6 separate regions of the Homo sapiens genome follow, and all the other regions are reported to be linked to region 4. Evidence: microRNA targets listed by miRTarBase, many of them from high-throughput screens and not tested one by one. Region 4 holds a microRNA gene; each other region holds the end of a gene's coding sequence. Distances are from middle to middle.

Region 1 (4,000 bases), not on the chromosome of region 4:
CATGGACAGGATCTTGGGGCTCTGAATTTCCAGTGCCCAGTGACCGTGGCAGGATATAAGGCTTTAGTTTCCCGAGGACAGGGGCTGGACCAGCTGTTTTCAGGCCTTTCCCGCTCCTGCAGCGCCCCCTGGTGTGGGGGGACCAGTCTCTGCAGCCACCGCGGACCCCACACCCCACAGCCAGAGGGTCCTCGCATCCTTCCTGATGACCAAGTTCCCTCCCACGGGCTCACACCCGACCGCTGGAACCCTTGCTTCCCTTGGACCATGAACAGTATAGAGGAGACGCTCTCATTCTCCATTAGTGGGTCAAATGGTTTCAGTCACTTTGGGAAATGGTGGTTTGTGGTTTTTTTAATTAAATTAATTTTTTTTTTTTTGAGACAGGGTTTTGCTCTGTTACCCAGGTTGGAGGACAGTAGCGTGATCACAGCTCACTGCAGCCTTGAACTCCTGGGCTCAAGTGATCCTCCTGCCTCAGCCTCCTGAGTAGCTGGGACTACAAGGCACGAGCCACCGTGCCTGGCTAATTTTTGTATTTTTAGTAGAGCCGGGGTCTCACTATGTTGCCCAGGCTGGCCTCGAACTTCTGGCCTCCAGTGATCCTCTGGCCTAGGCCTCCCAAAGCCCTGGGAATACAGGCATGAGCCACTGTGCCTGAATCTGGATAACTTCTCAGCACATAAAAGGAGTCTTCTTAGAAGGATAGTTTTGTAAGTTCTGTATCAACATCCCAGGGCACGATTAGGAACAAAGCCCCATTGGAGCCCACGGGAATGTCTGTGTGGTGTTTGACTGAACCTTAGGTTGGACTCAACTGGATTGGGCGTCTGACTTTCTCACCCACTGGCCTGCCCAGCTCTTGGGAAAGAATCACATCTTGTTTTTCTTTGTGTCCTAGTCTTCCCATGGTGCTTGATTTCTGAGCCAGCCCTTAGTCTGACTGAATTCTCCTGTCTGCCTTTCTGTCTCGCATTCCTTATGGAGTGCCTACATTTTGTGTAGTCGTTCATTCACTCAGTCACTCTGACAATCGCTTATTGCACAGATATGTGAGTGTACCAGGGATGTGCTACCTGCTTGCTGAGCATGCAGCCAAGTGGATGCAGCTAACATCCACTTGTTACTCCAGGTGAGTAAGGCAGACAGTCATCAGATAATGACACAAACACATTTCACAAACTGTAACAAGCGCTATGAAGGGGACAGTTCATATGTCCCCTTTCCATATCCTCATATGAAAGATGCTATGGGGCATCTTTCGAGGTCAAGGGAAGGCTGCAGGGGAGTGAGCAAGGGGGCAGGAGCCACCTCAAGCCAGAGAACAGAAATTGGGCTTTATTCTAATATGAAGAGAAGCTAATGAGAGCTTTAGGCAAAGCCCAATATGTCTGATTTATGTTGTTTAAAGACCCCTTTGGCTGATGTGTTACATGCGGGAGTGGCTTGGAGCGGGGAAGGGGAAGCAGGAGACCACTTAAGAGGCTGTTGAGTGGCCCAGGAGAGATGCCAGTGGCTTGGATGGGTTGGGTAGCAGTGGGGATGGACAGAGCACTGGGAATATGCATTGTGGGAGTGCCAAGGTGGATAGGTGGATATTAGTTCTTTTTTCTTTTTTTTCAGACAGAGTCTTGCTCTGTCGCCCCGGCTGGAGTGCAGTGGCGTCATCTCCGCTCCGACTCCCGGGTTCACACCATTTTCCCGCCACAGCCTCCTGAGTAGCTGGGACCACAGGCGCCCACCACCATGCCTGGCTAATTTTTTTTTTTTTTTTTTGTATTTTTAGTAGACAGGGTTTCACCATGTTAGCCAGGATGGTCTCGATCTCCTGACCTTGTGATCCGCCTGCCTCAGCCTCTCAAAGTGCTTGTGAACTACCGCGCCCGGCCCCTAATTACTGCTTTTGAATGTTAACTTTAAGTGAAAAATCTTTTAGCAATGTTTTGTTATGTAAGGATATTTTCATATTCAGTGACTATGTCATCGAAACACATGAATTACTTATAGGGGTACCAGCAGTTGCTGAATATTAAATGTAGGTTACTTGTTCTTTCAGCTTCTACATTCAGAGTTCCTTAATTTGTCGTCAATGAACCACCTGAATAAAAAACGTAAATATGTGACAATGAAGGTCCACGAAAGCTAGGTGCAAGATTACATGATCAGATTCTTCACAACACACAGCTAAATGAAAATACAGCTACTCTATGAACCTCAAAGATCTTTGATGACACTGCAAATGACACAAAAGCAACCTAAGCTGTATGCTTTTTTAGCATCTACTATTTAGGAGGGCCACCTTATAAAATAGATTTGAATCTCAATAAAAGTCTACTGTATCCGCAGGAAAATCCTAATACCATTCACTCACACAAATAATTTAACTATCCATTTCGAGAGGAAAGAAATATACCATGCTCTGGACGGGCGCGGTGGCTCACGCCTGTAATCTCAGCACTTTGGGAGGCCGAGGCAGGTGGATCACGAGGTCAGGGGATCGAGACCATCCTGGCTAACACAGTGAAAACCCGTCTCTACTAAAAAAAAATACAAAATACAAAAAAAATTAGCCGGGCATGGTGGCAGGCGCCTGTAGTCCCAGCTACTCAGGAGGCTGAGGCAGGAGAATGGCGTGAACGCGGGAGGCGGAGCTTGCAGTGGGCCGAGATTGCGCCACTGCACTCCAGCCTGGGCGACAGAGCATGACTCCGTCTCAAAAAAAAAAAAAAAAAAAAAAAAGAAAAGAAATATACCATGCTCTGAAATAGAAGCTACAGCTTTTCACATTAGCTCTCTAAAGGAGGTATACTCAAGCCCCTTTTCTTTATCCCACTACTAAAAAAGCACATGAGCAGTACGTCTATTTCAAACACACACAAGGAAATACGTAAAGCTCTTTTCAGAAGGAAATCATTTCCAATAAAACTCAAAATTTCTATTAACATTTAAATTATAAACCAAACATTGGCAACCCACATATATATATACACACACACACACATATGTTTGCTATGGACAAATGAAGACTGTGAGGTCATACTTTCAAATACAACTTTGGAATTAGTCACAAAAAATCAACATATATTCTCAGAAATTGTACCATTTCCTTTGGTCTACAATCCACGCTATAGGAGGTTTAATATAATATTAAATAATGTACCATTTACCCTAAAAGTAGGTTCTAGAAAACTGACTATTAGGATTGAATAACAAGGCTTTAATGGCTCAATTTTCTTATGATTATACAAACATATAAATCTTGAAAAGGTAACGCCATTTAGTAAAATCCATAAAAATAACAGTTTTGCCACAGTGCAGAGAAAAGTTCATTCAGTTTGATTCCCCATGCCCTCGACAAGCAGCTTTCTGATTAGAGCTGGAAGACACAGGCTGGGTGCAGTGGCGACCCCGTAGTCCCAGCTACTGGGGAGGCTGAGGTGGAAGGATCACTTGAGCCCAGGAGTTTCCGAACAGTCTGGGCAACATACCAAGACCCTGTCTCTTTTTTTAAACTTGGAAGACATAAAGTCTATACATTCTACACTGAATCATGAATATACTACGGAGAGTTTGTAGAAAGTAAACTTTAAAATCCCACACTCCAACATCATATATGTCCATAAGCAGGATTTGCAATTCACTTCATACTGGAGGTAAGCACCCCAGCTGGGGTCCTCTTGCCGCAGTGGTCAGGCCGTCAGAGCTGAGGCCTTTCACTGCAACAAGGGAAGTAGTCTTCGGTCCGAAACAGGACGGGGGCTTCGTAGCCGGCTTGCTGTGGCCTCGAGGGAGCAGACTTGCTAAAGAGCGAGGGCACGTTCATCGTGTGCAGGAGCTTCTTGAACGCCCTGGGGAAGGTGCCCAGCTCGGCCTCGGCCTTGGTGACCTGCTCCTCCATCCTGGCCACGCGGCCCCCCACCATCCTCACGAAGGCCTCCAGCCGGTCGATCCTGCTGTAGATGCGCCGCATCTCGGCGGCCTTCGCGTGGATGCGCGGCAC
Region 2 (4,106 bases), not on the chromosome of region 4:
CATGGGCAGCCCCACTCCCCCTTATGGCACTCTGATGTCCCCAGTCACGGCTCTGGGTCTCTCTCCACAGCCTTACGACAGTCTGCCTACCTCACAGACCTGCTTCTTCCAGCTGAGGCTGCCCCCGTACTCCAGCCAGCTGGTCATGGCCGAGCGCCTGCGCTATGCCATCAACAACTGCCGCTCAATCGACATGGACAACTACATGCTCTCGAGAAACGTGGACAACGCCGAGGGCTCCGACACTGACTACTGACCGTGCGGGTGCTCTCACCCTCCCTTCTCTCCCTCAATAATGCTCACTTCTGATTTGATGTTGATATACTTTTATGGTAACTACATAGATGTTATAAGAACATAAACCAACATTATAAACAATGGCCACATTTAGTTACTCTAAATGTAACAAAGAAATTAGATGTTTTTATTTTTCTGTGATTGTACAAAAACAACAAAAACGAAGTGCTCTCAGTCAGGTTTTTCCCTCCATATTTTTGGTCACTTTTGATAAGTTTGCATGAAACCATTTTGGTGCATTTTTAGTTGGGAATGGTACATTTTTGTAAATCCACCCAGTGAACATGAAATTGTACATTGTGTATAATTGTTCATTAGAAAGGACAGTTTTACATGAATATTCATATATTTATTTTGTTTTAATTTGAATTGCCTGTTCAGGGTTCCTTATGCAGAGAAATAAAGCAGATTCAGGAATTGGAGCGTGGCTCTTGGTATTGCTTCCTGCGGAGCTTCTGACTAGGGGTTACCATCGAGGCAGACATTAGCCCAGAACAGAATGAGCTTCCAGGCTGGTCTTGCTCTGATGGCTTTTTGACCCATTCAGAAACATTTCTTTACATTGAGGGTGGGCTTCACTTGGAAATAACGTATCAGAGAACCGTGTGGTTCTAGGAGATCCCTCTGGGTTGGAAGCCCCTATTTTCCATTGTTCTTCTGTCATCCTGGGTCTCTCTGACTTTGTTCCCTCAGCTGCTCCGCCCCTCTCAGTACCACGCATCCTTCTCTGGACAGCCCCAGCTACCTCATGTGGAGGGCGACTCTACCAGACAAGGAGGAAGAGGACCACAGTAATGCCATCTGGCCCTTCCTATGAAGAACCTACAAAGACAAAATGAGCACGTGATGGAATTAAAGAACAGGGTAGTTTACAACATGTCTCAGTGGGGAGGGCAGCCAAGTGGAAGGTGTTACAGAAAGGCCAGCAACTGCTAGCAGGCACTTAGCATGTATCAATGAGTGAATGAGTGAGTGAATGTGTGAATTAGCATGAGAACTGATGAGTGGCTTTCATATCCTTGAATGATAGAATTGTGCAGAGGTCTGGGGAAGGGGTTACATTCTTGGTGCTCAAACTCAGCTAGCCCCTGCGGGCCCTGAGTGCTGTGTGTGTGTTCAGCAGCATCAGGGTGAGCCTGTGTTTCTGGGGGAAAGGGCCATCTTGAGAGCAGCTGGGAGGGCTTTGGCCTCTTGGAGTGTGTGCAGGAAGAGGGGAAGGCCTGTGGACAGCTTGTCTCCCTCACCTACAGCAAGTTCATGCCACAGGCTACTTCCACTGTACTTCGCGGACAGGGTCTTTGCCGACAGCCTGCTCAAATGAGGTGCCAGACAGACAGCCCTCTGCAGGCAGTTATTTTCCACAAGGAAGATAGGTGTATGTCTTCAAAGAGAAATTAAAAGAAAAATAAGGTTTTGCCAGCTAAGATAATGTGGTAAATGGATCTTTCTTAGTGAGAATACCTAATAATATTTAGAATGATGACATCTTCGTTTTATTGAAAAAAGGCTTCAACTAGAATTGGGTCTCAGGGAGAGACTCCAGCTTTGGGGGGAACCCCAGGAGTTCTGGGTAAAGATGAGGCTTTAATACCGATCTAAGAGCGCAGTCAGTAGCATCGTTGAAGGGCTTTGGGCTTGAAGCCCTCCTGCTCGGGGTGGGAAGGCCCTGCCTGGGCCTCTGGACCAGGAGAGAATTTAAGAAAAGAAAGGCTCACGCCTGTAATCCCAGCACTTTGGGAGGCCGAGGCGGGTGGATCACAAGGTCAGGAGATCGAGACCATCCTAGCTAACATGGTGAAACCCCGTCTCTACTAAAAATAAAAAAAATTAGCTGGGCATGGTGGTGGGCACCTGTAGTCCCAGCTACTCAGGAGGCTGAGGCAGGAGAATGGCATGAACCCGAGAGGCAGAGCTTGCAGTGAGCCAAGATCGCGCCACTGCACTCTAGCCTGGGCGACAGAGTGAGAAAAAAAAAAAAAAAAGCATCTGTGCTGCCAAGATCCTGGACGAATCCAGGAGAGGCCTCTTAGGGTCTTCTGAGCCGCTTCCTGCGTCCCTCTTGCTGAGCTGGGCTGAGGACATGCAGAGCAAAGGATACCTCTGCAGTCTCTAAATTCAAAATAATGCCTCACCCTGTGCTGCTGCCACAGTTTGCTCTGGACTCGGGGGCAGGAGGACCCCCAGAAGGCTGGCACTCATGGTTGCAGGTCCTGGGCTCAGGGCTAACAGACAGCAGCTCAGGTTTGACCCTGTGAGGGGAATCTGCACAGTGCCATGATTTTATAACACACACTGTTTCGTTGCCAGAAACTGTTATTTCCTCATTGTCTTGACTATGTTTTCATTTTTGCAGAGACAGGGTCTCACTATGTTGCCCAGGCTAGTCTGGAACTCCTGGCCTCAAGCAGTCCTTCCACCTTGATCTCCCAAAGTGCTGGGATTACACACATGAGCCACTGTGCCCGGCCTCTCTTGACTTTTTGAAAACTCTGGAAAGGGGGAAGCACAAGTCCCTGATCTGAGGAGCTGAAGTGGGCCTGGTGCAGGTGCTTCCCTTGGTTTACTTTCAGCTCTTAGAGAGGCTTAGGCAGTTGTTTGCTGGCCTCATTCACTTAACAGATACTTGCAGTTTTTATGACCCTTAAGCAGCCTCAAGCAAACGTTGACCATCAGTTTTTAAAATTTAAGATTTCTCCAGACATCCTTCAAAGTATGGCTTTGTTCTGGGCCTCCTAGCTTTGTGGCCTTTGCCCAGGACTTCTGGCCGGATGAAGCCCACATCTTGTGAGCTTGGTTTTTAGCCAAAAGCAGATCTTGGGCATTGAATCCTAGAGCTGGAGGGAAAGTCTCTAAGGGGTCAGATGATCTCTGCCTTTATAAACCAAGAATCCAAGGTCAGGAGAGGGAAAGTTGGATCATAGGTGTGCCCCGACTAGAACTGGGAGCCTCTGCTTCCTGTCAGCGTGCCGTGGTAGAGCCGGGGTGGCTCAGTCACTTCCCCTCCGAACACTCATCCTGTGCAGAAACAGGCCAGTGTGTCTCTGTAAGACAAGCCTCAGAGCACCACCTCCTGCTAGCAGCCTGCTGCCTCCTGGGGGAGATCTGGAACCCTGACCTAAGAGCCTGTGGCCCTGGTCTCTCTGCCGGCACTGGGGCTCCTATGCAGACCAGTGCAACGTGGTGACAGGTCAGCCTTCAGCCAGGGAGCAGTGTCCTGCCCCAGTGGTGAGGTTCTGTTCTCTCCCACCACCTTCACCTGCAAGTGACCATTCGCTGCCTTGGCCAAACCTTAGAAAGAGTTAGCATTGCAGGAGTTGAGGGATGTCTATGATCTAATAGAGGCTGTGAGGGCATAGATAATCCCAAACCATTTCTGGGTGGCTCGGGAATACAATCAGGCTTCCATCAGCCCTGGCTCACCCCTTCCCTGGATATGCCTTGGGCTTCTTGACCTTTGCCTTTGCTGTGCCATGCCTGCCAATGGAAATATTCTCCTTAACGGTTGGAACCTGTGGCCCAGCTCAAAAGCTCTGTCTGCCACAAAGGGTGCCTGGCTTACCCACAGATAGACCTGGCTTGCTTCTTCCCAGTGCCTGGGATTTGTGTGTTGTGCCAGGCACTCAGCTTTTCTAGCCCCCCAAGGATATGAGGATACCTCCCCCTATCCCCCAGTCCCAAGAGGGTATTGGTCCCATTTTACAAATAAAGAAACGGAGGCTCAGAGAGGTCATATCTCGTCAAAAGCTATGAATGGCAAAGCTTGGAGATCACTCAAGAACACCCCCTCAACCTCAGCTGCATGTCTTCTA
Region 3 (4,093 bases), 110 Mb from region 4:
AGGGCACTCAGCCCCCCGGCTGGGAAGAGCTGTGGAGAGAAGCAAAGAAAGAGGCCCTGTCGCCATCCCCGGTGCGCATGCGTAGTAGAACAATTCCCCCCTCCCCCCCCGCCACCATCGTGCCCCGCCCCGCTACGCAAAAGGAAGAGCTTCGGCTCAGCTACAGGCCCAGAAGCCTGCTAGGGTTGCGCGGACCAATGATGTAATCAATCGTAGGCCAATCGAACATGTTGATGGAGGGGGAAGCAAGGCGCCTGCGCAGCTTAATTCGCTACCGCCTGGGAAGGTGGCCAAAAGGCTTTTTTTAAAGCAAGTGCTTCAAGAGGAAACTTCTTTTGCAAGACCCGTGTTAGCCCCCCAAACTAAAATTAAAGTTGCTAGATAACCTTTGTTAATGGCAAATGAATAGTGAGAAAGCGCAAAATGTAAATCTTCTCTACTATAAAATTTACATTCTGTTCCCACCCTTTCTCCCTTGTGACTGCGGGTCTTCTATATATAACCAGAATTTTGAGAAGTTTAGAAAGAAAGTTTAAGGACTCGACCATACGTTCACATGCAGAAGAAAAGGAAGTGATTTTTAGAACCCCAGCTCTTAACATCAATTCATATTTTGGAACTAATTCCATGTTTTCAGTTACAAATTTCCACCCTCCCGATTCTTGAGATCTGTTAAGAATAAAGAGAATGGAACCTCATTTAAACAAATTCTTGGGACTGAAAACAGTCAAAATAGTTCATGTCTGAGTTGTACAGCATTAAACAGTTGTTTGCATGGGCTGATAATCTCACTACATTTTACAATTACTGTTTAATGACTAAAAAGTGGACTCATCATTCACATTGGTTTACATGTTACTTAAAATTAGTTGGGAGGTAGGAATTCATGGTTCCATAAAGCAAATACTACTATTTCCTCATGTTCTATTTGAAAGACGCACATATTATTTTTTCTAGGTACACAGAACCCTCGTTAAAACCTAGAATTACCTAAACACAAAAACAAAATTACAGAAATCATGCATTTTAAAAGTAAAATGTGTATAACTAAATGATTAGGATACTCTGACTCTTGCAATTGTTTACTTCTCATTAATGTGAACTTTAAAGCAGTGATAAAATTTTTTTTTAACCTCAAAGCTGTTTTTGTCCAGTAAGTTAAGTATCACTCTTAAGTAAAATAGTGAAGCGGGAACGCTCTGTTAGGGTATTCACACTGTCCTCCACACATACCTTTTATCTAGTATTCGAGGTCTCCTCTCATCAGACATTTGTAATATATAACGCATTTACAGGGTTCTCTCCCCTCAGAGAAGAGTCTGTGGACTCTGAAGAGTCCACAGAACCTCAGCTCACAGAAAGAAAAATGCAGGGATCAGTCTTACTTCAGCACCTGGCAACCAAAACGTGTGTCTGACTAGACATTCCTCCTTTCTTTCGACAAAGCCCAGGAATCTGAAGCCCAACGTACCCAAGCAAACATCCTCTACTCCTCTTTAGTCATCAGCTCTATTTCATGACTCTTGGACAATATTAGCTTACATTATTGAACCCTGTGCCACTAAGCACTTTATATTCATTGTCTCCTTTAATCTCACAACAAGCCTATCAGCTAGGTATTAACCTTATTTTTCAGATGAGGAAACTGCCTCTTAGTTTAAGAAAGTTGTTAAACAAAGTTAAAATCTAGGTCTGTCATACTTCAAAAACTCCAGGTGCCTAATTCCAAGTCATCTGGCAGAATTTCTAATTCCTCATACATAAAAGTGTAGGGAATTGCTAGAAATGTTGATAAAGGGTTTCTTAATTAAGATTATATAAAAGAGAAAGGTGTGGGTGAGTAGAAGGAACCTCAACTCTAGGTTATGAAGAGGTCAAGATGATAGCAACTTAACTATAATGAAAGTAGGATCGGGTCCTTGATCTTAAAAAAGAAACTCTATTACACAAGAAATATGGGCTGGGCACGGTGGCTGACACCTGTAATCCCTGCACTTTGGGAGGCTGAGGTGGACAGATCACCTGAGGTCAGGAGTTCTAGACCAGCCTGGCTAACATGGTGAAACCCCGTTTCTACTAAGAATACAAAAAATTAGCTGGGAGTGGTGGTGCGCACCTGTAATCCCAGCTACTCGGGAAGCTGAGGCAGAATTGCTTGAACCTGGGAGGCGGAGGTTGCAGTGAGCCGAGATCGTGCCATTGCACTCCAGCTTGGGCAACAAGAGCAAAACTACATCTCAAAACAAACAAACAAAACAAGAAATATGTTGGTTGTAGGTATGTAGGTAAATTAGAAAATATAGGTAAGTGAGGAGAAAATTTGCCACTTAATCCTACCACCTAGAGAAAACCTCTATTAATACTTTGAGGTGGGATTTTTCTATTCATTCTTCTATACTTTATTTATCTTAAATATACTAAAAATTGTGATCATACTATACATAATGTCCTTAATTTTCCTTTTTCCCCCATTAGTAATAATTACATGGAATGGACAGAATTGCATATCTAAAATCTCAACTTTATATTCTTGTCAACAATAGCCTAAATAGCCTGCCAATATGAATGAGTAGGGAATGGATTGGGAAAATTCTAAAGTAAAAGAAGTTCCAGACACAATAGAGGTACAAACAACAACAGCAATAACAGCTACAATTTATTGAGCACTTACTAGGTCTTAAATATTTGCTAAATACATACACAGTACTCACAATAGCCCCAGGAAATTATAGATGTATTTAAGTTTTGGATCAATGAGTAATCGTTAGCTGAGTAGAAAGCTCTTTTCTACCCTACAATAAGCTCGACATTAAAGACTGACATTCCAATTAATATAATTAACCCTGGACTTATAGAACTGTTTTCTCATAATAATGCACATCTACTGCTAAATGACTACTCTCAAAGTTGTTTTCTTTTTCATGTTCAAAGAAAATTACATTTCTTTCCTTTCACTTTTCCAATAGAATACTCTTCAGTTCTACTCTAGAATCTCTTAGGAAATTATTTGAAATAGAAATCAATTTAAGCCCTATAACTAGAGCTTTTTCTCTTGTTGAGCTGCTTTGCAGGGAGAAAATGGCATACATATACAAAATAATACTCTGCTGAAACACATAACACTGACTCCCAAGAATACTGCTTACTTACTCTTTGTCAAACACTGTTACATGCTACCAATATTAGATGTATCAGGACTCCCTTTTCAGTAACTATGGTTCTTGGAGTCCTGGATAACTTAAAAAAATAGAGACCTGTCTGGCTAAAGAAATTTAAAAGTTCTCTAACTCTCAACCAGACACCTTGGGAACTACAATATGGATATGTCCTACCCAGTTCCCAGGAGTACATTATGAAGAAGTTCATATACATCCCACATCCACTGCAGTATCTCAAAACTCTCCTAGTAACAGCATCCTCCCATCACCACAAATACCAAGAGTATTAATTAAAGAGGGACAAGCCTGCCACTATATCCTTCACTCACAATTCCAAAGATGTTTGTCCTGGAAATTCTATCTTATTTTTGTGAGCTCTTAGCATATTGTGATAGCATGACATCTTCACATCAAGTATACTGCTTGGCTAGCATCAATAATAGTTCAAACAAATAGCAACAATTTATATACTTTACATCAACTAGGGGAAAGGTGACAAACATTGTTTAAGACAGTTTGAAGCACAGGTTATCACCAAGGTCTGTGTTTGGAAGATAAAACATGCGAGATAAACAGAGGACTAACACTGATTAATTCTGGAGAAACATGGAGAAGAACTATAAACTGCTTAGCAGGGAGAAAACAGTTCTCTGATTTATAATAAAATCTATTCACAACACTTATTTGTAGTTACTTTTATAATAGATAATATTCAAGTTATATTAAAGTGCTTCAAGCAAAATTTAGCAACTCCTGTAAGGCTTCCTGCTGTTCATCATCAAGTTGTGATACACATTCCAACCATAAATCTTCAGAAGTCTGTACCTGACGCACGACATTAGCTAGGCGTTTGGCACAAGGATCCTCATAGTTAATAGTCTCATTAATTTTTCCTTCTGCAATTATACTGATTATTTTGGGAAGATTGGAATTAT
Region 4 (4,106 bases):
CGATGTGGAGACTGAGTGTTCCCTGAGATGGGAGCAGAGTCACCTGGTCTAGCCAAGGTCCCCCGGTCACAGCAGACCCACAGACACAAATACCTTAGACAGAAGCCCCCAGACACAGAACTGCACTGGAGAGCCACTGATGCCCACAGGGAGACAGGAGCTACCCCAGAGGGGTCCAGAGCCCATGGAAGCCCCAGCCCCAGCCAGGCCCCAGTCACGCCGTGTGCCAGCAGCAGGTCCTGTGGCCAGACAACCCCACATGCGGCCCCCACACTCAAAGCAGGGGGAGAAGCAGAAGATGCCAGGCAGCAGGTGGCCAGGGCAGCGTGGCCGTGGGAGGTGGGGTTCCCCGCTAGAGTCTGCGTAATAGACACGGAAAATCTTTACCGGCATACCCATCTTGCCCCTCTTGCCAGGAACGCCAGGCAGGCCCTGCAGGGGAGAGACAGGGGAGAGGTCAGGGCAGGATGCCAGCAGGGACAGCCAGGCTTGCCCCAAACCAGCCCAGAGCCACCCACGGCAGGAAGTCACAGAGGGCCTGGAATGTGTGCCACTTGCGTGGCGGCCCCAGTGACATGCACATCAGACGGATGGCAGGGTCGGGGTCTGTGGTGACCTAAGAGACAGAGAAATGCCAGTTCCTGTAATCAGCAGGTGCTTCATAAATGCTCAGGCTCCAGCTGTCCTAAGGTTCTCTATACCCAGCTTATGGAGGTTACAAGTGAGTTCCCATAGATACGGGCTCAGGTTGGGAGGGGGCGGGGAGGAAGATCCCGAGGCCACCACCCCAGGGGCTTCTAATGGACCTCCAGGCTGGGCCAGGGGTCTGTGAGAAGCTCCCACACCATCTTTTGGACTCCTCTGACTTAGATACTTGGTCTGGAAGGACAGGGTGTCTTAGGAAATCTTAGCACCCACTGCCCACCACCAAACCAGTCCCACCACCTTCCCCAGACAGCCGCTCCCCCTGGCTGCTGGAACTCCTGCCACCTGCTCTTGCTGTCCCCACCCCCAACCAACACATTTTACTCAAGTAAACCAACTGATCTGTCTAAAAGAGGAATCAGCAGATGGTTTCTGGAAAGGGGCAGATAGTGAATATCTTTGGCTCTGTGGGCCATACGGTCTCTGTCACACCTACTCAACTCTGCCATTGTAGTGAGAAAGCGGCATTGACAATATGTAACCAAATGAGCAAGGCTGAGTTCAATAAAACTGTTTGCAAAAACAGACAACTGGCTGGATTTGGCCCATGGGCCACCGTTTGCAGACCCCTGATCTATATTATAAAGTGGGCCCGGTGTTCATTGGTTGCAAGTCCTCAAGAGGCTCCGCATACCCTCAGAACAGAGTTCCTTTTCTAACCTTAGTCCTGGGCACCTAAGACATTGCCCCAGGGTCCTCTCCAGCCTCAACTCCCACCACTCTCACCCTCTCACGCAGCACTTTGGCAGTGTTGAGTGTTAAACTCGCCAAGTTACCGTAAATCCCTGACTTCGCACATGCTGTTCCCTATGCCTGGAATGCATCTGCCTTGACTTGTCCCCTTATCAGACTCCTACTCGACTCAAGTGCACCTCCTCCAGGAGGAATTCCTTGACTTCCCCAGGCTGGTGCCTGGCAGGTTCTGCTCTGTTTGGGCAGGGGTGGCTGTGGATGGTGAATAACCAAAGAAGCAAACTTACTCGTTCTCCATCAGACCCTGGCAGGCCGAAGAGCCCTGGGAGCCCAATGTAGCCCTAGGAAAGAGAAGAAAGGGGGTCAGAGCGGTCAAGCAGTGAGGTGTGGCTGGCCCAACCTGCCGCAGCCCACCCACCACTGCCATCCCACATCCCGGCTCCTCCTCTTCCTCCCTGGTGGCAGTGGCAGCTCCGGTGGCTCCTCGATGACATAGGCCTTGAGGCAAGTGTATATGCCCATGGACTGCATGGTGCTGGCTTCCACGATGTAGTCCAAAGGCACATACCCTCACGCCAGGGAAGGGCGCAGGCGCTCGCCGGCAGGAGGCCCGCCCCACGCCAGGGCTCCAGGACCTGCAGAAGGAAGCTCGCGGCTGGGTTAGATGCTAGCACGGCACCAAGCCCTGCCCACCCCCAGGGATGCTGGTAGGTGCCCGTGGCTCCTGCCATGGCTCCTCCTAGGCCTTCAAGGTCCTGGATGTAGGGCTTACATCCACCTCTGGCCGCCTGAGTGCTGGCATTAACTAACAGCGGCTGCGAACCCGGAGTGCCAACATTGTGCCAGGCACATGCATGCTACCACATTAGACTCTCACAAGGACCCCCCAGATTGTCACCACCCACACTGGACAGACAAAGAAACTGAGGCTCTGTAGATAAAGCAACACGACTAGTCAGTAGTGGAGCTGTGAATTCTCTTCGGGAATTCCTAATCAGTTCAAGGGTCACCCAGGGCCAGCTGACTCCACAGCTGGGGCTCGTCACCATTCTGGGGCTCTTCCCTAGGATGCATCTCATTTCCTCCCTCCCAGCCTTTCCTCACTCTGTCCCCTCCACCAGGCATGTCCTTCCCATCCCTCATGACTTCTGAGCCAAATCCTTCAAAGCCCAGCTCTCATAAGCGCTCTCCTTGGGCAAGCATCCCTGATACCCCAAGCCGGAAGCAATCTCTCCCCCCCATCCCCAGTGCCATTTTTGCACCTCGGTAGCATCCTTCTCCACTTTCTCCCTTGTATCTTCATTATTTGTGTTCATGCTTCACGTCCTCATTAGCCTGGGAACTTCTAAAGGGCAGTAACCTCGCCCGGGGCTTCTACCACTATCTGCGTGCCACTCTTGGTGGAATGATTTAATAATAACTCTAACAAAAGCTAATGTTTATTGAGCACGAATGATAGGCCAGGCCTGCTGCCAGTGCTTTGCATATATTAAAGCATTTATTCCATCCTTATCACACCCCGAGGAAGTATTATATTTTATTATTTTTTTATTTATATATATTTTTTGAGACGGAGTCTTGCTCTGTCATCCAGGCTGGAGTGCAGTGGTGCGATCGTGGCTTACTGCAACCTCTGCTTACCGGGTTCAAGCGATTCTCCTGCCTCAGTCTCCTGAATAGCTGATCACAGGTGATCACAGGTGTGCACCACCACGCCCAGCTAATTTTTGTAGTTACTTTAGTAGAGACGGGGTTTCGCTATGTTGACCAGGCTGGTCTCGAACTCCTGGCCTCAGGTGATCCACCCGCCTTGGCCTCCCAAAATGCTGGGATTACAGGCACGAGCCACCGCGCCCAGCCCTGAGGAAGTATTATTACTCAGCCCCCTGTAGAGGTAAGACCATTTAGGCCCAGAGGGGTGAAGCAACTTGCCTAGGACCAAACAGCTGAAATGTGGTAGAACTGGTATTCAAATTCAAGTCTTCTGACTCCTGGGCCTGGGCTCCTAACCACTCTGCATACTGCCTCTCCTCAAACAAGCAACCAATGGAGGCTCACAACCATCTCTCCTTCCCTGGAAGGCCAAGAAGCCACTGAGCCTCCTCGTTGGCATCCAGCATGATTAATATCCATAATCTGAAAGAGTGCCATTTACTGCCATTCCAAATAGTGCTTATCTCCCAGATTTACAGGTGAGAAAATAATTGGCTCAGAGAGGCCCAGTGACTTGCCCAAGCTCCCACAGCTAGCTAATGGCAGGGCAGGTCTCAAAGCCTGTCATCCTGATTCCAAAGCCTGCCCTCTGCCTACTTCAGAAATATGAGGCTGGTGGTGGCAGGGTTGGAAGGGCAGCTTGAGTGACTCACTGCTCATCCAGGCTTCCCACCCAGGGCTGTGTGGCCTGTAAGAGACAGGAGTGCTGGGGCCAGACCAGTCCTCTCCTGCTATGTGACTTTGAGATGCCACCAGCCTGGCAGGCAAGTCGAGCAACCCCAGATGTCATTAACATGCCTGTCCTTCTGGCAGGTCAGGAGATCAGGACTGGGGCTGGACTGAGAAGACCTTTCTCCTTGGGTTTAGGGGGTCCCTCTGGGGGAATGGCCCATGGGAGCAGCAGAATAAAGGAAGAGAGGCACAGCACCCTGGGACAAGAGCCTCCTTAGGCCCTGCCTGTCACAGTAACCTCCTGGGGAATGCACCTCCCCGCC
Region 5 (4,090 bases), not on the chromosome of region 4:
AGTCCCCCAACAGAGACTCTCTTTATACAAGCATGCCCAATCTTAGAGACTCTCCCTATCCGGAGAGCAGCCCTGACATGGAAGAAGACCTCTCTCCCTCCAGGAGGAGTGAGAATGAGGACATTTACTATAAAAGCATGCCAAATCTTGGAGCTGGCCATCAGCTTCAGATGTGCTACCAGATCAGCAGGGGCAATAGTGATGGTTATATAATCCCCATTAACAAAGAAGGGTGTATTCCAGAAGGAGATGTTAGAGAAGGACAAATGCAGCTGGTTACAAGTCTTTAATCATACAGCTAAGGAATTCCAAGGGCCACATGCGAGTATTAATAAATAAAGACACCATTGGCCTGACGCAGCTCCCTCAAACTCTGCTTGAAGAGATGACTCTTGACCTGTGGTTCTCTGGTGTAAAAAAGATGACTGAACCTTGCAGTTCTGTGAATTTTTATAAAACATACAAAAACTTTGTATATACACAGAGTATACTAAAGTGAATTATTTGTTACAAAGAAAAGAGATGCCAGCCAGGTATTTTAAGATTCTGCTGCTGTTTAGAGAAATTGTGAAACAAGCAAAACAAAACTTTCCAGCCATTTTACTGCAGCAGTCTGTGAACTAAATTTGTAAATATGGCTGCACCATTTTTGTAGGCCTGCATTGTATTATATACAAGACGTAGGCTTTAAAATCCTGTGGGACAAATTTACTGTACCTTACTATTCCTGACAAGACTTGGAAAAGCAGGAGAGATATTCTGCATCAGTTTGCAGTTCACTGCAAATCTTTTACATTAAGGCAAAGATTGAAAACATGCTTAACCACTAGCAATCAAGCCACAGGCCTTATTTCATATGTTTCCTCAACTGTACAATGAACTATTCTCATGAAAAATGGCTAAAGAAATTATATTTTGTTCTATTGCTAGGGTAAAATAAATACATTTGTGTCCAACTGAAATATAATTGTCATTAAAATAATTTTAAAGAGTGAAGAAAATATTGTGAAAAGCTCTTGGTTGCACATGTTATGAAATGTTTTTTCTTACACTTTGTCATGGTAAGTTCTACTCATTTTCACTTCTTTTCCACTGTATACAGTGTTCTGCTTTGACAAAGTTGGTCTTTATTACTTACATTTAAATTTCTTATTGCCAAAAGAACGTGTTTTATGGGGAGAAACAAACTCTTTGAAGCCAGTTATGTCATGCCTTGCACAAAAGTGATGAAATCTAGAAAAGATTGTGTGTCACCCCTGTTTATTCTTGAACAGAGGGCAAAGAGGGCACTGGGCACTTCTCACAAACTTTCTAGTGAACAAAAGGTGCCTATTCTTTTTTAAAAAAATAAAATAAAACATAAATATTACTCTTCCATATTCCTTCTGCCTATATTTAGTAATTAATTTATTTTATGATAAAGTTCTAATGAAATGTAAATTGTTTCAGCAAAATTCTGCTTTTTTTTCATCCCTTTGTGTAAACCTGTTAATAATGAGCCCATCACTAATATCCAGTGTAAAGTTTAACACGGTTTGACAGTAAATAAATGTGAATTTTTTCAAGTAGTTAACATGTGAACTTTTATGTATGATACATAATTGGCTTTAACATGTTGGTCCATTCCCACCTTGGTTTAAGTAACGTCATACCAAAGTCCATGGATATATGAAAGGATACAATTAAGTTGCCTGTTTGTTCTTTATGCTGAAAGGAATATATGTCTTCCAATTGCCCACTACATATGCACAAAATCTGCTGGATAAGTTTTAAGAGGGATATATTCTGAAAGCATTTTTGTTTGTTGCATTGTACCAGGACTAAAAAAAGAAGGATTGGAAGTTCTGCCATCAAATTTGGGTATCATAAAAAGTTTTTAACTGATTTTTCAGCAGTATTGGGAAGTTTCTTAAACATACTTTAAGGATTATAAATATCCCTATAGACAGCTGTGAATACCAATATACATTACCCTGGAAAAGTTTTACTCCAAGTTCAAAAATCATATAATTGAATATCAAGAAATAGATGTTTTCTGTTTGTATCATAAGCATTTATAGAAAATTATTCTAAAGCTTAATGGTTTGCTATAATTCTCAAATACTACCACTAGCTTATAAATCACTTTTATGTGGACACACACATGCCTATTGAATTTAAAAAGGAATGAGATTTAAAAATTAAGTGCATATATATAATATACATATATATATATATATATATATATATATATTTTTTTTTTTTTTTTTTTTTTTTTTTTTTTTGGGACAGAGTGTCCCTCTGTCACCCAGGCTGGAGTGCAGTAGTGTGATCTCGGCTCACTGCAACCTCCGCCTCCCAGGTTCTCAAACAGATTTAACAATCCTCTGAGAATGGTACTCATTTATTTGGCTAAAATTCTTCAGGGATTTATAAACTACTTGCTAAAGGAGGGCATTAGATAATCAAGTATTTTTAATTTTCCATCTTGTTATACTTTTTATTTTAAATGCCTAAAACCATACAGTATTGTGTGATGTGTAATTCCTAGTATACAAGCTACCTAGAGTCAGGCTGGTTCAGTAATAAATTTTTTTAAAGGCAACACTGATTATTCAGTTAGTCCTATTTCTTTCTCTTGAGGCAGTTCTCAAAACTCTAAAGACATGAACACTGCATCGTACCTAAATGGCTACTGTTCTCTAACGTCTTTATCCTATGGATTCAATTTGGAAGCCATCATTGATCTTTGGCATCAAAAGAAAAGTCATTTTTAAAGCATTTCTTTTCAAAAATATATAAATATTGCCTTAAATTCCATCTAGGATTCCCTTAGTACAAGGTAGTTTCTTAGGTTTGTAATTACTAAACTACTGACTGTTTTAATGCAGATGCGTTATTGTATTTATTAACCCAGTTTCTTTGGGTCTGCCTAGACTTCACCTGAATGTACAGTTTTCACATTCTTGATTGTTTCTCTTTGTGATAGTCACAACTGTGAACTTATAAAGTCACATTTTTAAAGTTCTTCCTAGAGACATTCACTCTGTCTTTATTAAAAATAATAATAATAATAATAAACGTTATCTTGTTGGCCAGACTGGTCTCCAACTCCTGGTCTCAAGCAGTCCTCCCAGTTGGGCCCCTCAAAGTGTTGGGATTAGAGGTGTGAGTCACTGCGCCCAGCATTAGTCTATTCATAATAAGGATGTTTGTGTACATTTGTTTTATATGTGACTTGTTACAGGTTAGTCCAGATTGACCTCTTGTTTTTTAAAAAAGGCCGTTCTATTTGCAAAACACACACACACACAAGACCCACTTATAGTTTATCCATTTATATATTTTTGTCTTAGAGGTGTTTATATTCATTTATGTGGAAGAGAATCCATACAAATCTATAAATCACTTAAATATGTCCTCGATTTCCACTCATCCACATTTGAGGGCAGTGACATATAATATTTTAACCAGTAAAACATTATTTGACAGAAAATCACTGTCTTCTCCCCAAAAAGAAGAGAAGCATCATGCACAAATTTATTGCTAAATTTCAAAAAAAAATTAACATGCACTTGTTTTATGGATGTATTTACTATGCTTTATGTATTTATTTCAATGAGAAAAGAGAAAATGTATCTTTCCTTCAATTCAACATTGAACCTCAAGCTTAAAACTGACCTTTTAATGTCCTCTTGTGGGACAGGGAGTTTTGTAAACAATTTTAACTCAGTAAGTTACAACCTTCTAAGTAGAAAAACTTGGAGAAATTCACACTAGTTGAATTTTTGAAATGAAAATAGCTCTTTGTATTTTCTCCATACTGATATCTTTAAAGGCAGTCCTTCCTGCAGTATTTTACAAATAAAGCTTAGTACCTAGAGTTTACACAATCCTGTGTTCCAGCTAATTCTCTTTCCCCGAAATTATTTCATTAAATCTCAAATGTCAGTATGGAAAGTTACTGGCGTGTTGAATGTAGATGAGAATTACTTCTCAGCATAATAAAATTAGTTTTGTGTTTTTTTTTTTTTTGGTGAAAATGCCATATCGTATGCTTCCTGCTAGTGAGCACCAAGTTGATTGGGAGTAGTCCTTAAACAGCATGTAT
Region 6 (4,106 bases), not on the chromosome of region 4:
GCAGCCATTACATTAGGTCAGGAAACAGAGCCAGCCTCCTACCCCTGCTTTAGTCTGTACCTCCATTCTTCAGACAGGTGTTCAAGGGCAATCATGTAGCTATCACAACTAGAGTTTCTTGTCAACTGTGCTCGCTGCAACTCCACTTAGCTTTGGTGCTGCCTCCTCCTCATGCCCTGGCAGGTCTGCTCCTGCTACTATTCCCCACAGTCAAGAACTGCTTTGAGGCTAGGCACCGTGGCTCATGCCTGTAATCCCAGCACTTTGGGAGGCTGAGGCGGGTGGATCACCTGAGGTCGAGAGTCCGAGACCAGCCTGGACAACATGGTAAAACACCATCTCTACTAAAAATACAAAAATTAGCCAGCTACTTGGGAGGCTGAGGCAGGAAAATCACATGAATCCGGGAGGCGGAGGTTGCAGTAAGCCGAGATCGTGCCACTGCACTCCAGCCTGAGCAACAGAGCGATGCTCTGTCTCAAAAAACAAAAACAACAAAAACAAAAAACAACTGCTTTGAAAGGGATCAAAGTTGGGGACTGGGCCTTTTTTGAATAATCTCAAAACCTCATCCTAGGAAATGAATTACCCAAAGGGGCCCACAAGAGAGATCTTAATGTCAAAATATTCTGTAACAATGAGACCTGACCCACTGATCCAATACTTTAGGAAATAGCATGATGAGCAAGTGAAGGCATTGGTGCTTCACATCAGCTTCTCCCAGAGCAAAAATCTGAGATTAAAGAGGTCTAGAGGGTTAGAGGCGCACATTTCATAGTATACTTTAGTCCCTCCTGAATCACTTTTATCAAAGAGCTAGCTGTAAAATAGATATCCCGATATCCAACAAAAGCAAAAACAAAATAAACAAAAGTAGACCTGGGCTTCACAAATAAGGAAGCACTCTTCATGAAGCTCTGTAGCCATGTAGCTTCCCAAAGTAAAAGAGCACCCTTATTTGATGATGGGCCAAGAAACTCACTCACTTAAGGCCGCCATGGTGGCTCATGCCTGTAATCCGAGCACTCTGTGAGGCCAAGGTGGGCGGATCACTTGAGGCCAGGAGTTTGAGACCAGACTGAGCAACATGGCAAAACCCTGTCTCTACTAAAAATACAAAAATTAGCTAGGTGTGATGGTGCACACCTGTAATCCCAGATAACCTGTAATCCCTCTCGAGGCTGAGGCAGGAGAATCACTTGAATCCAGGAGGTGGAGGTTGCAGTGAGCCAAGATCGAGCCACTGCACTCCAGCCTGGGTGACAGAGCAAGAGAAAGATGAAAGACAGAAAGAAAGACAGACAGACAGACAGAGAGAGAAAGAGAAGGAAGGAAAGAAAAGAAAGAAATGAAGAAAGAGAGAGCTAAAGGGAAAGAAAGAAAGAGAAAAAAAAGGAAAGAAAGAAGGAAACTTAAAATTTTGGAATGCATAATAATTCATCCTTAAATTTTGCACATTTACCTTCTCAAAATAGTTCTTATTTAGCAGGGATGAAAGTAAATGCCCAGCCGGGCACCAGTGGCTCACACCTGTAATCCCAGCACTTTGGGAGGCTGAGGCGGGCAGATCACCTGAGGTCAGGAGTTCAAGACCAGCCTGACCAACATGGTGAAACCCTGTCTCTACTAAAAATATAAAATTAGCTGGGCATGGTGGCACATGCCTATAAATTCTAGCTACTCAGGAGGCTGAGCAGGAGAATTGCTTGAACCCGGGAGGCGGAGGTTGCAGTGAGCCAAGATTGCACCATTGCACTCCAGCCTGGGCAACAAGAGCGAAACTCCATCTCAAAAAAAAACCAAAAAATCAAAAAAAACAAAGAAAGTAAATGCCAAACGTATGTCAATTACTGATGAATGGAAGGAAATTATCACATTTGGCAAAATTAGTTCAAAATGAATAAATCACAGAAATTCTCCTCCCATAAGAAAATACCTAATTTGGATCTTCAGGAGTAAGAACCAGAGATCCACCAGACATTATACATGCTATAATTTAGGTATACTGCACAGAATTACACTCTTATCACATTCTCAGTAAACTCCAGACATCTTAGTCTTACAGTTGAATAAAACTGCTGCCAATGTCTTCTCTTGGTTTAACAATGAAGCTAACGTAGTTTGGAAACAAATAAGAGCTATCAATGGACAGCAAGACATCTATCTAAACCAAACCTTTAGCAGAGAGATCAGTACAGATTATGTATGATACAGACCCCAAATCACACAGGTACACACACTTTATTAGTTTCCTCTACAAGAGACAATAACATCAATCTTTTTTAACAGGAATCTCAGTTCATTTGAGAGGCCAAATAGATCCAAAGAAGGAAGATGAAAATTAAATACTTAAATTAATCAAAAGGCACTACGATACCACCTAAAACCTACTGCCTCAGTGGCAGTAGGCTAAGGAAGATCAAGCTACAGCACATCATCTAATATGAATGTTAGCAATTACATAGCAGGAAGCATGTTTGCTTTCCAGAAGACTATGGTACAATGTTCATTTGGGCCCAAGAGGATATTTGGCCAGGAAAGGATCAAGATAGATGAAGGTAAAGCCAAATCGAAAGGGATAGGTACAAAGGAGAATCCAAGCTACATAGTCAAGCAGATGGTGATGGATCAGGCTTCTTCCTCCCAAGAAACATTTGCTGCACTGTGCTGCCTCCCCCCTCAACCACCCCCCACCCCCCACCCAATGTCTGCTCAAGCTGAGCTGCCTGCTCCTGCCTTACAGGGTGCTCAGCTACCAGGACTAGGTTTGGGGTTGCCCAGGGCTCTTGCTATAATTTAGCATAGACCTTGGGGAGAACTGGTCACACATGGGTTGCCTTTGTTGCTAGTTGTTCTCAACAAAGAAAACCCTGAAGCATTCACATACAAAGTAGTCTGAGCTTCCCCAGTCACAGTCAAACACCCTCACACAACATCCTCAAAAGTCTGAAATCTTGCAGCAGCTGAGCTATAGTTAAAGCTGCAAGGCCCACAGAATTATCAAGGAAGCCAGAATGAGATAATGCAGGTAGGAGGTCCCAGCAGTTAATCTCAATCCGTCTTTCCCCAGTTCGGATAAGCTCTAATATACCTGATGTGGGATGTAGAAAGCTACACTGGAGCAAGCCGGGTCTTCTGCTGAATTTGTCATCAAATACCAAGGGGAAACAAGGGTGGGGTGGATTTTATTCTCAAAAAGCCTCAGAAGTTACTCTATTATAAAGGGACATGGCTGAATAGGTAAGAAACGGATTCTCCATTGTGAGTTCTCCTGATGGCTTCTGCAAGGATCATAGAGATGTCAATCACCTAGAAAGGCAAGAAAGGAAATCAGGTTACTATCATATGGTCAGAGATGACTGGCCAATTTGCAGACACTGATGAGCAGCCAGGCAAGTGCCCTTCCTCTTAAAACTGCAACACTGTGCTGTTTCCCTGTCATGAGGCTGCACTCAGCTATTCTTCATAACATTTTTAAGATAGCCACTTACGGCTGGGCACGGTGGCTCACACCTGTTAATCCCTGCACTTTGGGAGGCCAAGGTGGGCAGATCACTTGAGGCCAGGAGTTGGAGACCAGGCTGGCCAACATGATGAAACCCCGTCTCTACTAAAAATACAAAAATTAACCAAGCATGGTGTGGCACACGCCTGTAATCCCAGCTACTCGGGAGGCTGAGGCATGAGAATTGCTTGAACCTGGGAGGTGGAGGTTGCGGTGAGCCAAGATCGTGCCACTGCACTCCAGCCTGGGTGACAGAGCGAGACTCTGTCTCAAAACAACAAAACAAAACAAAACAGCCACTTAGGAAAGAGTCAAAATGCTAACTGAGAAAAAACGCTGACTTTGGTTCATCAAAATGGCTGGGCACTGTGGCTCACACCTGTAATCCCAGCACTTTGGGAGGCCAAGGTGGGAGGATCACTTGAGCCCAGGAGTTTGAGTCCAGCCTGGGCAATATGGTGAAACTCTGTCTCTACAATAAAACAAAAATTAGCCAGGCGTGGTTGTGGTGTATGCCTGTAGTCCCAGCTACTTGTGAGGCTAAGGCAGGAGGATCGCTTGAGCCTGGGAGTTTGAGGCTGCAGTGAGTCAAGATCAGGCC

What was found. Region 4 holds the annotated microRNA hsa-miR-455-3p (GCAGUCCAUGGGCAUAUACAC, at 1,907-1,927, opposite strand). A microRNA usually pairs through its seed, bases 2 to 8, with sites in the 3' UTR of a target mRNA and lowers its output. Matches are read on the target gene's strand: a 7mer-m8 pairs with bases 2 to 8, a 7mer-A1 pairs with bases 2 to 7 and ends in A, and an 8mer does both.
Region 1: the mRNA of BLOC1S4 is a reported target of hsa-miR-455-3p. The part of its 3' UTR that is shown has no 7-base or 8-base seed match.
Region 2: miRTarBase lists HERC1 as a target of hsa-miR-455-3p. The part of its 3' UTR that is shown has no 7-base or 8-base seed match.
Region 3: miRTarBase lists RANBP6 as a target of hsa-miR-455-3p. The part of its 3' UTR that is shown has no 7-base or 8-base seed match.
Region 5: miRTarBase lists ADGRL2 as a target of hsa-miR-455-3p. The part of its 3' UTR that is shown has no 7-base or 8-base seed match.
Region 6: miRTarBase lists PRPS1 as a target of hsa-miR-455-3p. The part of its 3' UTR that is shown has no 7-base or 8-base seed match.

Annotation. Positions count from the first base shown.
Region 1 is chr4:6,716,561-6,720,560 of GRCh38, reverse strand. BLOC1S4 (biogenesis of lysosomal organelles complex 1 subunit 4) reads right to left here. Exons shown (of 1, transcript NM_018366.3): 1 at 2,897-4,000. The coding sequence ends at 3,698. Among named protein-coding and RNA genes, the nearest start is that of BLOC1S4, 2.4 kb to the right of the region's middle. RefSeq lists an enhancer at 3,346-3,985.
Region 2 is chr15:63,605,231-63,609,336 of GRCh38, reverse strand. HERC1 (HECT and RLD domain containing E3 ubiquitin protein ligase family member 1) reads left to right here. Exons shown (of 78, transcript NM_003922.4): 78 at 71-719. The coding sequence ends at 256. It also overlaps a transcript of FBXL22 not described here. Among named protein-coding and RNA genes, the nearest start is that of USP3-AS1, 6.5 kb to the right of the region's middle.
Region 3 is chr9:6,008,400-6,012,492 of GRCh38, forward strand. It overlaps RANBP6 (RAN binding protein 6), which reads right to left. Exons shown (of 1, transcript NM_012416.4): 1 at 2,626-4,093. The coding sequence ends at 3,891. It overlaps BRD10 (bromodomain containing 10), which reads right to left and starts at 83. Exons shown (of 8, transcript NM_001017969.3): 1 at 1-83. RefSeq lists an enhancer at 1-113 and a silencer at 1-150.
Region 4 is chr9:114,207,308-114,211,413 of GRCh38, reverse strand. MIR455 (microRNA 455) reads right to left here and starts at 1,980; the gene lies at 1,885-1,980. It overlaps COL27A1 (collagen type XXVII alpha 1 chain), which reads right to left. Exons shown (of 61, transcript NM_032888.4): 11 at 1,686-1,739; 12 at 388-432.
Region 5 is chr1:81,990,856-81,994,945 of GRCh38, forward strand. ADGRL2 (adhesion G protein-coupled receptor L2) reads left to right here. Exons shown (of 24, transcript NM_001366006.2): 24 at 1-3,077. The coding sequence ends at 290. Among named protein-coding and RNA genes, the nearest start is that of ADGRL2, 190 kb to the left of the region's middle.
Region 6 is chrX:107,649,143-107,653,248 of GRCh38, reverse strand. PRPS1 (phosphoribosyl pyrophosphate synthetase 1) reads right to left here. Exons shown (of 7, transcript NM_002764.4): 7 at 2,223-3,309. The coding sequence ends at 3,217. Among named protein-coding and RNA genes, the nearest start is that of PRPS1, 23 kb to the right of the region's middle.